2 linked regions of the Homo sapiens genome follow. The protein of the gene in region 2 purifies or fractionates together with the protein of the main gene of each other region. This does not show direct contact. Each region holds a gene or a part of one and is shown on either strand. Other genes may lie near its edges.

Region 1 (7,026 bases), on a different chromosome or scaffold from region 2:
AAGAAAAAAGAAATTTGAAAGGAAATTCTGGATGTGAATCTACCTGTCAACTATCTAGTTGATATTTAATGTCTTTTATTTTCTTGAGTCTTTTGTAGATATGTTTGGGCCTACATATTTTCTTTTTTCTTTTTTTTTTTTTTGAGATGGAGTCTCACTCTGTCATCCAGGCTGGAGTGCAATGGCGTGATCTCAACTCACTGCAATCTCTGCCTCCTGGGTTCAAGCGGCTCTCCTGCCTCAGCCTCCCGAGTAGCTGGGATTACAGGCGGCTGTCACCATGCCCGGCTAATGTTTGTATTTTTAGTAGAGATGGGGTTTCACCAATTTGGCCAGGCTGGTCTTGAACTCCCAACCTCAAGTGATCCGCCCACCTTGGCCTCCCAAAGTGTTGGGATTACAGGCATGAGCCACTGCCTGGTTGGCCTACATATTTTCTAATGCAAGCATAAAATATCTATCTACCTTTTATAATTTTTATTGTAAAGTCTGCTCATCTATCAATCAGAACATGTAAGCTCCTATAATTCTATTTGTCAAGGTTGGGTTCTCTGAGACTCCGAGATGTGCATGCAGGAGTGCTCTTGGGAATGGGACCTGTGAGGCTGCAAGGGAAGCAGACTGGATAGAGGGAGACATTGAACTGTAATGCAGTCACAACAGAAGTCTCCCTCAGCAGATCCTCTAATCCTAAGGGGACTCTGGACCTGGGATGCCCTTCAGAGTTACCTCCTAAATTAAGGGAGGTAGGCTGTGCCTTCACACCTGCCCATTGACCAGTCCAATGGACTCAGGCTGGGGTGGTGGTGCTTAACCTTGGGCAAAGTGTCTCTCTTCAACCAAGGAGAAGTCCTGGGAGAGGTCTCAGCTGAGAGCTCCCAGCAGCTGAAGAGTGAGTCCGTCAGTCCTAAAGCAGGGATCTGGGTGGCACATCAGAGCATGCACCCACCTCTCTCTTTACTAATAACAAACATTTAAAATTTTCATTTGCATAGAACTGTTGGTATAGTTTTACATACATCACTTCACATAATTTTCATAACAACTCTGTGATATAGATACCAGTAATCTTATTTCTACAAATGAGAAGAGGCTCACCAAGTCAGTGTATGGAGGGTCACATGCAAAATGAAAAGAATCATTCTGGGCTTCTGAGGTTCCCACCTCCTTGTATGAGCCATTCAGATTAAGTTCTAGCAAAGTGCCTTATTTCTTGGAAGAGGCTGGCTGCTTGGCCTTCTGCTCAGTGCTTGTTCAATCATGTGGATCTGCATTTAATGAGTAACATGGATGATCTTTTCTTGAAGAGCAAAACCTCAAGCTTTATTAAAAGTTTGAGTATGAGAAACAGTGGTCACAGAAAGTTGCCTGAAGGGTGTAGAGCAGCTCCATCAGTCGGTTCTTCATCAGTCTAGTTTTAAGTTGTAGACTGAAATAAACCCACAGAGAAAGAGCACACACTTGGGTGTTGAAAAATCAAGTGATTACAACACTACTCCCCCATCCCCTTTAAAGTCTGTTCAAAGAAAATTTTAAAAAATTAAGGTAGCATATTAAGTCTGCCCCTGCCTTTTTTTTTTTTTTTAAGGAAAAAGGAAGAATTTTCTGAATAAACAAGTCCATTGCTAGAAGGCAGAGAGATTGGGTAGGTGGTGAGCTGAATCAATCTTCATTACTAAGGTGTCAGGTGCTCAGGCTAAACCTGCAGCTTTCCAATAGGAAAACATTCAGTCTAGTAGCTTGTTCTGCTACTAGACTGCCTCAGTGAATGAGTAACTGACTGGATTAAACAAAACACCCCAGAAATATTTACCAAGAAGGTAAGGTCCAAAAGGAAGGTAGTGAAAGGAAATGTACTCTGATCATGAAATGGTTGGTTGATGAGCAAGTCAAGCTTGAAGATTTATCTCTTTTCTTCATTCAGAAAAGCAACTGAAATGCAAACTGGTGCTATTAATAACATAGTCCTTGAAGACAACCTAAAAATAGTTCCTAAAATGCCATTTGTAACTGTAATTTTGCATCTCAATCATTGGCAGTTTGGAATGACAGTATTTTGTACAGCAAGATGATGCACATTATAATACTATATATAGAGAGAGAGACATGCATGTGCTCCTCCTTCTTCCCCACACAAATCACCCGGAGGTCATAAAAATGTTTAAGTTCCACCAGGAGTAAGCAAAAATTTAACAAGGAAATACATACTCATTTTACATTTAGGTAATTAAGTAGTAATCTCCTTGATGTTAATTTTTATTTCTCCAAGTTAAAGTTCTTGCTTATATGAACTCTTGCTTTCTAAATAGCCCTGGAATCAAAGGTAATTCCTTATCATGAGTTACCAGGTCACATAAGGCCTTACATAATTGTTAGCATTTGATATCTGTAAGCAACCATGTCATCTTTCTACCAATGATCTACTTCCCTTTTCTCAGAGGCTGTGGGAAGGTCCTTTTCAAATACTAGCACCTATTATATAGAATAATCTGAACTCTATCCTTCTCTTTCAGATTCAATAACAACACCTGATTCAGAGTTTGTTTTTACCTCTTCAGTCCCTGTTTCTGAAGAAAATAAAGTGCATTCCCATATATGCCAGCAAAGTGCTAGTTTTGTTCTTGGATGGAGATGTACAATCACCTCCTTTGCAAGCTTTAGTTAAGAGCAGGGAGAGAAGAAAAATCTTAGAGAATATCTTTAAGCTATCTTTCCTTGGGCTACTAGGCTGGGAATCCCAGCCCTTGGATATATTAATCATTTGGTGTCTGGGTTTCTGTCCTTGTACAGGGTCCTCCACCACCCTACTCACAGGTCCTTTCCAGCCCATCCTGTGCTCACCACCTGCTTACTTGCTGCACTGAGACCCAAGGAGAGCACCGCTGTCCTACCATGTACTGCCAGAGAGCTGGACAGAGTCATTGATTAGGAGGACCTTTGAGAGGTAAGTAAGCCTGTGGTAGGGTAAGGCTGGGCCTGGGGTAGATTGAGTTTAAATGGATTTTTTCACATCTGATTTTGTTACATCATTTTTCAGGCCCTCATGCCCAACCCAGTGGTCCTTAAGCTTCAGGAGAGAAAGCCTGTCACAATCAACCAGAATAATGGAACCCATTAATTCAACAGACATTATCTATCCATTATGTATGTATGTATGTATGTATGTTTGTATGCATCTATCTATCTATCTATCTATCTATCTATCTATCTATCTATCTATTTATCTATCTATCTATCTACCTATCTAGACAGTCTCACTCTGTCATCCCGGCTGGAATGCAGTAGTGTGATCTTGGCTCACTGCAACCTCCACCTCCCAGGTTCAAGTGATTCTTGTGCCTCAGCCTCCGGAGTAGCTGGGATTACGGATGCCCGCCACCATGCCCGACTAATTTTTGTATTTTTAATAGAGACAGGGTTTCGCCATGTTGGCCAGGCTGGTCTCCAACTCCTGAACTCAGGTGATCTGCCCATCTTGGCCTCCCAAAGTGTTGGGATTACAGGCATGAGCCACCGTGCCCTGCCCAACAGACACTTATTGACTGCCTGCCTACTATGTGCTAGACATTACTAGGGAATTATTCAAAGATATATGAGAGAATTCTAAGCCTTTGAGACAAAGTGCATTGAAACAACTCATTTAAGTTACTCCTTGGGCAGTCCAAAGAGTTGGGAAGAGTGTAGATTAGATTATTTCTGTGCCTTGATTCTGGACTAAAGTTGGCATTAGAAAATTAAATATTTCCTTCTGTGGAAGTGAGGCCACTGCTGTTGGCCATTCTTTGGACTCTCTGAGTCCCTATTTTTTCCATTTCCTGTCCCTTCAGGAAACAGCTTAAAAAAATGACTATTATTAGGTCCAGACTGCCATTGTTCTTACATCGCAATATCCTTTAATGAAGCATCTCACTGTTTTAAGCACCTGATCAGAACTGCCTCTGGTGCTCCTTTTGCCTGGAATGCCCCCTCCCCCACTGCATTTGTTCAGCTCAATAGTCAGTGCCCCAAAAAGCCTTCTCTTGACCTCTGCTTGTTTTCCTGCAGCACTTGTAGCCCTCCCAGCACACTGAGCACATTCTACTGGGTGTCACAATCATTTGTGCATGCGGTTTAGTTCTTTTACTGGACTGTAAGATCCTTGAACTAATTCATCTTATTTCTCCATCCCATCATGGCACAGAGAAAACTAGCTTGTACCTTGTTGGGACTCTCTCTCCTTTTTTTTTTTTTTTTGGTGGCCTCTCCTCCCTCTAAATGTTTCTTGCTTTGAAAATCAAATTGTTGTACCATCAGTTTTTCTCAATCTAATCTCAAAAGTTTGGATGACAAGGGTTATCCTTGGTCCCAACACTTGTTTTGTAATGAAGTTCTTCAGTCTTATAGCTTTTAATGATGCAATATTTTTGAAAGCTATTGTAAGCATTTTTCCTTTATCACATTGTTTAAAGGAGGTCAAATTTTGTTTTCTGCAACCTTGCAAAACCAGGTCAAAGGTAATCTGGAACGTTTTATAACTTACCTGGGACTCAGTTTTGCAACAGAGAGTATCTTTAACTGTTACTAAAGCCTTGCATAAGAGTAGTGCCTACACTGTGGGAGCCTCGCATGGCTGTGTTGAGTTAGGCAGTGTATACCCTGCCAGTGAGCTGATGAAGGGACCCTCAGGAGACCTGGGTTATCTACCCAGTGGAAGAGCTAGTTTATTGATGGTCTTGATGCTAGGATAAATGGAAATGGAACAAATGTACAATTTCAGGCCTCTTTTGTAGGTTTTTATAAAATATCCCATATTGTGTGAAATAAAATATGTTTTACTGTTTTACCCATATTCTGTATTTGGAAAGTTGGGTGAAAAACTACTGGCCCAGCCATGTGGCTTTTATTAGTTACAACATTGATACAGGTTCTTATCCTTGGAGACAATTTTCCCATGTGATTACCTAGATCATACCCTGCCCTGGAGAACGATCCTGAAATGTACAACAGAGAGAAAGTCATATTCTCTGGGAAACAGTGCTGCTGCTTGATTCAGGGAAGTGTTTATGAGTCTTGACTTTCTGTAACTATAGTAAAATTGAAAAGAGTAATTGAGTACTGAAATTCCTGATAGGGTTGAGTCCTGTTAAGTGTTATAAAGAAACCCCCAAATTCATAACAACTGGATCAATCCTCATGATAAATGCCTCTGTGCTGGTCCTTTACATATACTGCAGAATTTGACTGACAGATGGAGCTCAAGAGCTCTTACTAGTCCACAAGCCCTGGGCTGAAACTCAAAATATGGAATCAAACTGACATTTATGTATCATGTTCAAGATGGTGTGATAGAATAAACAGTGCCTCGTAAGTGAGAAAAAAATATTTGGGTTCTATCTCTACCTTTCTGTTCCTAACTATCCACTTGATCATGGGCAATTCATATCATCCCTCTAGGCCTTTGTTTATACAGCTATAAGACAATGAGAAGGCCAGTAGCAGTGGCTCACGCCTCTAATCCCAGCACTTTGGGAGGACGAGGCAGGTGGATCACGAGGTCAAGAGATGGAGATCATCCTGGCCAACATGGTGAAACCCCATCTCTACTGATAATAACAAAAATTAGCTGGGCATGGTGGTGGGCATCTGTAGTCCCAGCTACTTGAGGGGCTGAGGTAGGAGAATGGCTTGAACCTGGGAGGCGGAGGTTGCCGTGAGTCGAGATCGCGCCACGGCACCTCCAGCCTGGGCAACAGAGCGAGACTGTCTCAAAAACAAACAAACAAACAAACAAACAAACAACAATGAAAAACAATGGGAAACTAGACTGTTTCTCAAAGCCTAGTCCTCAGACCATTTGTTTCAAAATCACCTAGGGTTGGCGGTGGGGTTTCTTATAAAAATACACATTCCTGGGCCCCAACATAGTCTTACTGAATCAGCATTTTTGGGGATGATCTCAGAAATTTTATTTTTTTGTTTTGAGACAGGGTCTCACTCTATCACCCAGGCCGGAGTGTAGTGGCACAGTCAGAGCTCAGTGCAGCCTCAACCTCCCGGGCTCAAGCAATCCTTTCACCTCAGCCTCCCCAGTAACTGGGACCACAGGTGCTCACCATCATGCCCAGTTAATTTTTGTATTTTTTTTTTTTGTAGAGATGGGGTTTCATCATGTTGCCCAGGCTAGTCTCGAACTTCTGGGCTCAAGTGATCCTCCCTCCTCCACTTCCCAAAGTGCTAGGATTACAGGAGTGAGCCATAGTGTCCAGCCTCAGAATGTTTTTAAAAGTAAGCTTCCGGCCAGGCGTGGTGGCTCACGCCTGTAATCCCAGCACTTTGGGAGGCCAAGGCCGGCAGATCACGAGGTCAGGAGATCAAGACCATCCTGGCTAACACGGTGAAACCCTGCCCCTACTAAAAATACAAAAAATTATCCGGGCGTGGTGGCGGGTGCCTGTAGTCCCAGCTATTCAGGAAGCTGAGGCAGGAGAATGGCGTGAACCAGGGAGGTGGAGCTTGCAGTGAGCCGAGATCACGCCACAGCAGCCTGGCCTGGGCGAAAGAGCGAGATTCCGTCTCAAAAAAAAAAAAAAAAAAAAAAAAAAGTAAGCTTCCTAGGTGATTCTTGGGCTTATTAAAGTTTCTTCTGTAAACTTTTTTTTTTAAAGTATAACACATTCATTAAACTTACAGGATTATAGGGTTAGAATATCTCTAAGGTCCCTTCCAACACCAAAGAATTCTAAGAATCAGTCCATTCAACATATTTTCCCATGGGCATGTTTAGTAAACATGCAACTCTGTGACAGACTGTAATTTTGCTTCATGTGCAAAGGTATCTCAGTGATTTGGAAAAACTGATTTTTTTTCAAATATGTGGCCTCCCTCAGAGGTCAGTTGACGGTCCAGAGAGTGCCTTAGGTCCACTGTAAAGTCTGGTTCACGTTTGAGTTTAATATAGAAATTCCCATATATTCTCTATGTAAACACATAGCTCTATGGCAGACAACTGTTAGCTGGGTGGGAAGAGGGTATCTGGTTGTAATTCTG
Region 2 (7,026 bases):
GCGGATATGCAGGTGCATTTTTATCAGTTTTAGACTTCTTGCCTAGAGAGGGGATTTAGTTCACTTAAACTACCCTGCTTCCGCTTCTTCCTGATACAGTCGTGCGTTTTTAGGTTCTTCGTTGGCTGCTTTTGTGATTGTGTAGGTTGTACATGCAGATTAGTTTCTTGCTCGTGATTTATAGGTGCGTTGTATTAGATGAGGACCCCTTACTTTGCTAGATTTCGGATATGAATGTCTCTGCACTTCTTACTTTTCCCCTCCACCTCCTAATTCAGTCATCTGAAATTCTGTATTGTTAAGCAAGGTCTAAGTATTCCTTTTAGTTATATGTTCCCCATTTTTTTTCTTGAGGAAATGTTTGATAGTTTCTCCTAAAAAAATTAACAATTGGCACAAAAGACTAGTTTTGTGTCAAAACTAGTTTTGAGTTTTATCTAAAGACTGAAATTGGCTTAAAGTTGGGCTTTCCAAATTCAAAAATCTGCCCCAGATTAGATTTAGATTGAGAGGGTTAGTGTCCTTTTCGCCAGGGGGATGGCGTGATAATTTGTTCAAGATTGTGTTATAGTAGCTGCCCCTTTTAAGCCAGCTCTGTGTGTGTGTGGTGGGGGGTGGGCAGTGGGTCTTCCACATCAACATCCTAGAAAGAACGAATAAACATTGAGTGATCTCACTGTTTCTACTTACATTTGGTATAATATACTGTTCTTACTGGTGCTATTACTATGTTAATAGGGCACTTTACAACATTTTCAAGAACATTTGTATTAAAATTATTTCAAAGACTTCTTTCTTAAAATATGATTTTACCATGCAAAAATTTTACTAAGGTAGAAGAATATTTGTTCTTTCTCATTCATTTTCTGAAAAAAGAAAAAAGCTGAATTAGCTTATACCAATAAAAACAGAGACTAGAAATTGGAGAAATGAAGAATAATTTTTTATCCCACATAATAAGTAATTTCTGAATTGCAAGTATTTCTAAATACTTGAAGACATTCCTCACATCCCCTCTTCTGATTGCATTTATTTCCTAAAGCTTTTTTTTCTTTTCTTTTTTTTTTTTTTGGAGACGTTGTCTCTCTCTGTTGCCGAGGCCGGAGTGCAGTGGCACAGTCTAGGCTCACTGCAGCCTCTGCCTTCTGGGTTCAAGCGATTCTCCTGCCTCAGCCTCCCAAGTAGCTGGGATTACAGGTGCCCGCCACGACGCCCAGCTAATTGTTAGTAGAGATGGGGTTTTGCCATGTTGGCCAGACTGGTCTTGAACTCCTGACTTCAGGTGATCCACCCACCTTGGCCTCCCCAAATGCTGGGATTACAGGCATGAGCCACCGTGCCCAGCCCCTAAAACTATTCTTGATGATATTTCTGAGACTATTCAGTGGTCTTCTCAAATGTAGCCAGCAGAATGGAAAACGTATCCCCTAAATGGCTGGCCAACCTTAGCATATGGACAGTGTCACCTCTCTCACACAGAGCCACTAAAAACTAAACACCAAAACCAGTTTTCTTGGGTAAAGTTTTCTAAGATGGAAAATTTAAGCAGCAAGATGTGTCAAGTTGTAGATGTTGGCCAGGAAAAAGCCAGCAGCAGCCAGGCAGGGGAGAGTGTGCATCCGACATCCTCCTGTGTGATGAAGGGATGACACCTCGTCCCTCTAGGCTGTCAGCTTTTACTGTTCCAGGATACAGATCTCCTGATTCAATGTTGAGTGCCTTTTGAACTGACCACAAGCCCTCCTGGACGATTGGAACTGTAATGTGGAAAGGGCTATGATGGAGCCAGTTAAAATGCTTCATTACTTGCAAAATACCACATACAGTAATACAATATACACGTCTTTCCCCTTCTCCACTAAGTAGCATACATTAAGACTTCACAGAGGAAGTGTGCCTTTTTCATTTCGTATCTGAGTCAGTGAGTATCCTGTTTGGAAACAAGCTTCATCCTGGTTTTCTAGAGTGCCAAGTCAGGGTGGAAACGAGGACCTGGGGGCTCAGTCCTTCCTTGCCCCTTGGGCTGCCTTCAGGGTTAAGTAGAGGGTCCCAGCTGAGCTCTCTGGATGCACAGGAGCACCTGGGTACATAAGAAGGTGAACAGTTTGCAAGGGGAAATTACTATCCCCCACAGCATTTGTTCCTTCAGGACACTAACCCTCTGGATCTGTGTCTTCTGTGTCTCCAGTGGCCAACAGTGTTGCAAACAGGAACCCGAGGTTTTCACTTCACTGTTGATGGGAACAAGAGGGCATCTGCTAAAGTTTCAGATTCCGTAAGTTCATGCTTTTTGTTCCATTATAAATGATTTTTTTGGCTTAGGGGGTAAGGATCTATACCAGTTTGTTTTCATATGAGTCATAGACATAAGGGAAAAATTTCTCATAGGTATCCAATGCATGCTGAAATTATTTTCAGTGTAATAATACTTAATTGCAAGTACAAATATAAACATAGATGTTTACATTTTTACTTGTATCTGTTATGTATCTATAAACTAGATTTAAATTTAGATCAAGTAAAGCAATAAATTAAAATAAAATGAACAGTGTCTGCTGTGATAGATGATAAAATTCCTACTGAAAATAGGACGGTGGGGCCAGTGAACAGTATCTGCTGTGATAGATGATAAAATCCTACTGAAAATAGGATGGTGGGGCCCCTCGGGTGTGGGTTGCTTTGTATTTAGTGAGCCTATCTCTGTTGAAAAACTGAAACTTGCTGAGAAGTTGTTTTCTTATAAGCCCACAATAGCGACTGAATACTCCTTGGCACCTTCTCAGGCATAAGCATAGGCACGGCCCTGAAGTAGAGTTGTGGTCCTCAGTCTGACCCCATGGGATAGACCCTCTACCATTCGTAGAATCTGATTGTCAGTCCCTTCTCCAGGTGCGAATGTGCCCACCTCTCCCCGAACTGTTCAGGGCTCAGCCCCAGGACAGGATGGAGGCCCTGTGTGCCCAGCAGTTGCTCCTTTTATCTTTGTCAAGCTCTTTCACTGTCACAAGATTCTTCATGTTTGGCATAGTGGAACATGTGATTGACAGGTGAATTTTTCTTTTCCAGATTTCTGCTCAGTATCCAGTAGTGGATCATGAATTTGATGCAGTGGTGGTAGGCGCTGGAGGGGCAGGCTTGCGAGCTGCATTTGGCCTTTCTGAGGCAGGGTTTAATACAGCATGTGTTACCAAGCTGTTTCCTACCAGGTCACACACTGTTGCAGCACAGGTAAGAGAAAGGTGCCCCACTGTGCTCCCACTCCGTGCAGGTCCCGCGCAGCCTCGCACTTTCTACCTGGGCAGCCCCCTGCCTCCTCCCCCTGCTCCAGCCACATGGCCTCTTGCTGTGCCTTACTCAGCTCACCCTCTCAGGGGTCTCTCCCTGGAGCCTCTTCCCTGGGGACTTTGAAGGGCGGGAGACTTGTTGTCACTCCTAATTCAGACTCCAGTCACACTTGGGTTTTCTCTGACCATCTTGCCTACTACCTTCCCCACCTACCCCCGCCACCCCAACACCTTAAGAAAAGGAGATCACCTAAAGAGGAGGAATCAGAATTTAGGTTGGGGAAGAAAAGGGCAAGGGTTTCATTTGTCCCTGTGCTTCTGTCTTCTGGGACTCTCTGAGGGGTAAGACAGTGGTGGGCACACACAGCCAAAGGAAGCTGGGGTACAGGGGAGTGCGACTCTGAGTGTGGAGTTTATTACTTGGCAGGAAGCACTTCTAGTCTTTAACACATGCCCGTAAATGCCATTGGGAAGATTTGTTAATAAAATTATCTGGAAAGATTTGTTGAGTACCTTTTCTGTGCCAGATAGGTTAGGTTATAAGCATATTACAGGTAGCCTTTCACTCACTGCTCCAGTCAGCCCTTCCTGGAGTTCCCTGTGTCTCCACCACGCAGATGAGGAGACTGAGGCTAAGGATGGAATCACTGGGCGAGTCGGGGAGGGGTTGTGATCTGGAATCTGTCGGGTCTCGCTGCTCCTCTGCTGAGGTCAGCCCTCACTGGGAGTCACTGTGTGAGTAGTTGGCTTTCTCTGAATCCCCCCAGCGGGTGGATTTGGGCCTGGAAGACAAAGTTGGCGCTCCTGTTTGTGGCTTGTAAGGAGTGGTTGGTGTTTCCAGGGAGGAATCAATGCTGCTCTGGGGAACATGGAGGAGGACAACTGGAGGTGGCATTTCTACGACACCGTGAAGGGCTCCGACTGGCTGGGGGACCAGGATGCCATCCACTACATGACGGAGCAGGCCCCCGCCGCCGTGGTCGAGGTGATGGGCGGGAGGCTCTGGGTGTTCTCGTGGTCTGTTTCTAGTACAAAAGAATCCTGGAAAAAAATGTAAGCAATTGAGGCGGATGTGGCAGCCAAAAGAATGGTGATGAGCAAAGTTCACAAGAAGAGTCTTTTTCCGTTATGAACTATGCATTATATGTAACAAGAAAACTTCTCTTTGATGAAGTGTTGACATTTTCATAAAATAGGTTACTTTGGGTTTGCAGATTTGTGTTAAACTTGTTTAGTGTAGATTAGCTGCGAATATCTTGACTCCTTTAAGGTGTTAAGGTTTTTGTTTGTTTTTATCTTTCACAGCTAGAAAATTATGGCATGCCGTTTAGCAGAACTGAAGATGGGAAGATTTATCAGCGTGCATTTGGTGGACAGAGCCTCAAGTTTGGAAAGGGCGGGCAGGCCCATCGGTGCTGCTGTGTGGCTGATCGGACTGGCCACTCGCTATTGCACACCTTATATGGAAGGGTAAGGCCGCCCCCGTCCACCTGAGACAGGACACGTAGTGCTGGGGCTTATGGTGACAGTGGGGAATGGGTTAGCGTGCCCAGTGAGTCAGCCAGAGATTACGTAAAAAGCAACAGAGAACAGCAGCGTGGGGCGCATGCAGCGACTGTGGATGTGACAGGACCAGACGTGTGCCTTGAGGAGCTGTCCCTAAGGCAGTGTGTGACTTCTTGCATCTATGTCAGAAAGTTGAATCGATAATCTTACATACCAGGTTTTAACTTGGGATATGTGACACTCAACATACAAGAGCAGAGCAAGCAGGCCAGGCACAGTGGCTCAGGTCTGTAATCCCAGCACTTTAGGAGGCCAAGGCAGGAGGATCACTTGAGACCAGAAGTTTGAGACCAGCCTGGACAACATAGCAAGACCCTGTCTCTACAAAAAGTTTAAAAATTAGCTGGGCATGGTGGTACATGCTTGTAATCCCAGTTACTCAGGAGGCTGAGGCTCCTGGATCACTTGAGACCAGGAGGTTGAGGCTACAGTGAGCCATGTTCGTACCACTGCACTCCAGCCTGGGCAACAGGAGACCCTGTCTCAAAAAAAGAGAAAGAACAGGCTGGGTGCGGTGGCTCACGCCTGTAATCCCAGCACTTTGTGAGGCCTAGGCGGGCAGATCACAAGGTCAGGAGTTTGAGGCCATCTTGCCTAACACTGTGAAACCCCGTCTCTACTAAAAATACAAAAAAATTAGCCAGGCATGGTGGCAGGCACCTGTAGTCCCAGCTGCTTGGGAGGCTGAGGCAGGAGAATGGCGTGAACCCAGGAGGCGGAACTTGCAGTGAGCCGAGATCGCACCCCTGCACTCCAGCCTGGGCAACAGAATGAGACTCCATCTCAAAAAAAAAAAAAAAAAAAGAACAAGTATTTTAAGTCTCTTTTACCACCTCTGAGTTCCTGAATGGATTGGTTTTGTTTGTTTTGTTTTGTTTTGTTTTTGAGACGGAGTCTCACTCTGTCACCCAGGCTGGAGTGCAGTAGCACAATCTCAGCTCACTGCTACTTCCACCTCCTGGATTCAAGTGATTCTCCTGCCTCAGCCTCCCGAGTAGCTGGGACTACAGGCGCACGCCACCATGCCTGGCTAATTTTTTGTATTTTAGTAGAGACAGGGTTTCCCATGTTGCCCAGGCTGGTCCCGAACTCCTGAGCTCAGGCAGTCCACCTGCCTTGGCCTCCGAAAGTGCTGGGATTGCAGGCGTGAGCCACCGCACCCGGCCATGGATTGTTTTAATATTAACTGTTAACACTGAAGAAAGACTTGAGGTGACAATAGTTACTGGGTAATCAGAGTCAACTTTGGCATGGCCAAATAATATTCTGAACGGTATTGATTCAGAGTAATCAATATTCTGAACTTTGTTGTTTTCTGATGCATGGGGACGGATCGTTAATTTGCAGGTTGTTAGAACACCAGTGACTTCTCTGTGGCTGAGTGCATCGACAAGTGTGTGGTGGGAGGAGACCGCGGCTCCATCTGGAGCAGGAGCTGTCATGTGGGGAGCTGGCCCAGGCTTACAAGAGCGACTTGTGCTGGCTGAGGGAACGGCAGGTCCAGGCGGGCAGCGCTGTCCGGCGCCTACCTTTCTGCGGTGCCGGAATCTGCTCGTCTGCAACCGTCCGCTTTGGTAGCTGCCAGCCACATGGGGCTGTTGCTAATGTGGCAGGTGTAGCTGAAGAGCTGAATGTTTTGACTTATTTTAATTAATTAAGTGGTTATGTGTTGCCAGTAGCTCCCATCTGGGCTGTGACTGCATGGTCTGCGGACCTCACTCTGGCACCAGACTCCGAGTGGAGCTGCATGCGGCCACCGGACAGTGTGGAGTGCCTCTTCGGGTTGTGTAGAAGTAGGAAATGTGTCACCAAAATAGGAGCTGTTGCTGCTGCGTTCTCTAGCACACCTGCCTTGTCTGTACTGCTCGGCGTGGAATGCCTCTCGGGCTCTGACAGTGTCACTGACACTGTTGCTGATCTCCTTGGATTTACCTGGTCCATTTGGATCAAGTTCTTTCACCTATTCACATGAGCAGATACCACCTTAAAACCTTAAAGTTTGGCTTAACACTTCTTGCCCTTTTTTTTTCCTTTCTTTTAGTCTCTGCGATATGATACCAGCTATTTTGTGGAGTATTTTGCCTTGGATCTCCTGATGGAGAATGGGGAGTGCCGTGGTGTCATCGCACTGTGCATAGAGGACGGGTCCATCCATCGCATAAGAGCAAAGAACACT

The links.
Region 1: the proteins of SDHA (region 2) and SLC27A2 fractionate together in Homo sapiens (co-fractionation; 2 studies listed by BioGRID). This does not show direct contact.

The regions. Positions count from the first base shown.
Region 1 is NC_000015.10:50,185,177-50,192,202, reverse strand, and holds part of SLC27A2 (long-chain fatty acid transport protein 2), read right to left. Parts: intron 1-7,026. UniProt on the Homo sapiens protein: Mediates the import of long-chain fatty acids (LCFA) into the cell by facilitating their transport across cell membranes, playing an important role in hepatic fatty acid uptake.
Region 2 is NC_000005.10:221,294-228,319, forward strand, and holds part of SDHA (succinate dehydrogenase [ubiquinone] flavoprotein subunit, mitochondrial), read left to right. Parts: intron 1-2,188; coding exon 2,189-2,275; intron 2,276-3,066; coding exon 3,067-3,228; intron 3,229-4,125; coding exon 4,126-4,269; intron 4,270-4,589; coding exon 4,590-4,754; intron 4,755-6,891; coding exon 6,892-7,026. UniProt on the Homo sapiens protein: Flavoprotein (FP) subunit of succinate dehydrogenase (SDH) that is involved in complex II of the mitochondrial electron transport chain and is responsible for transferring electrons from succinate to ubiquinone (coenzyme Q).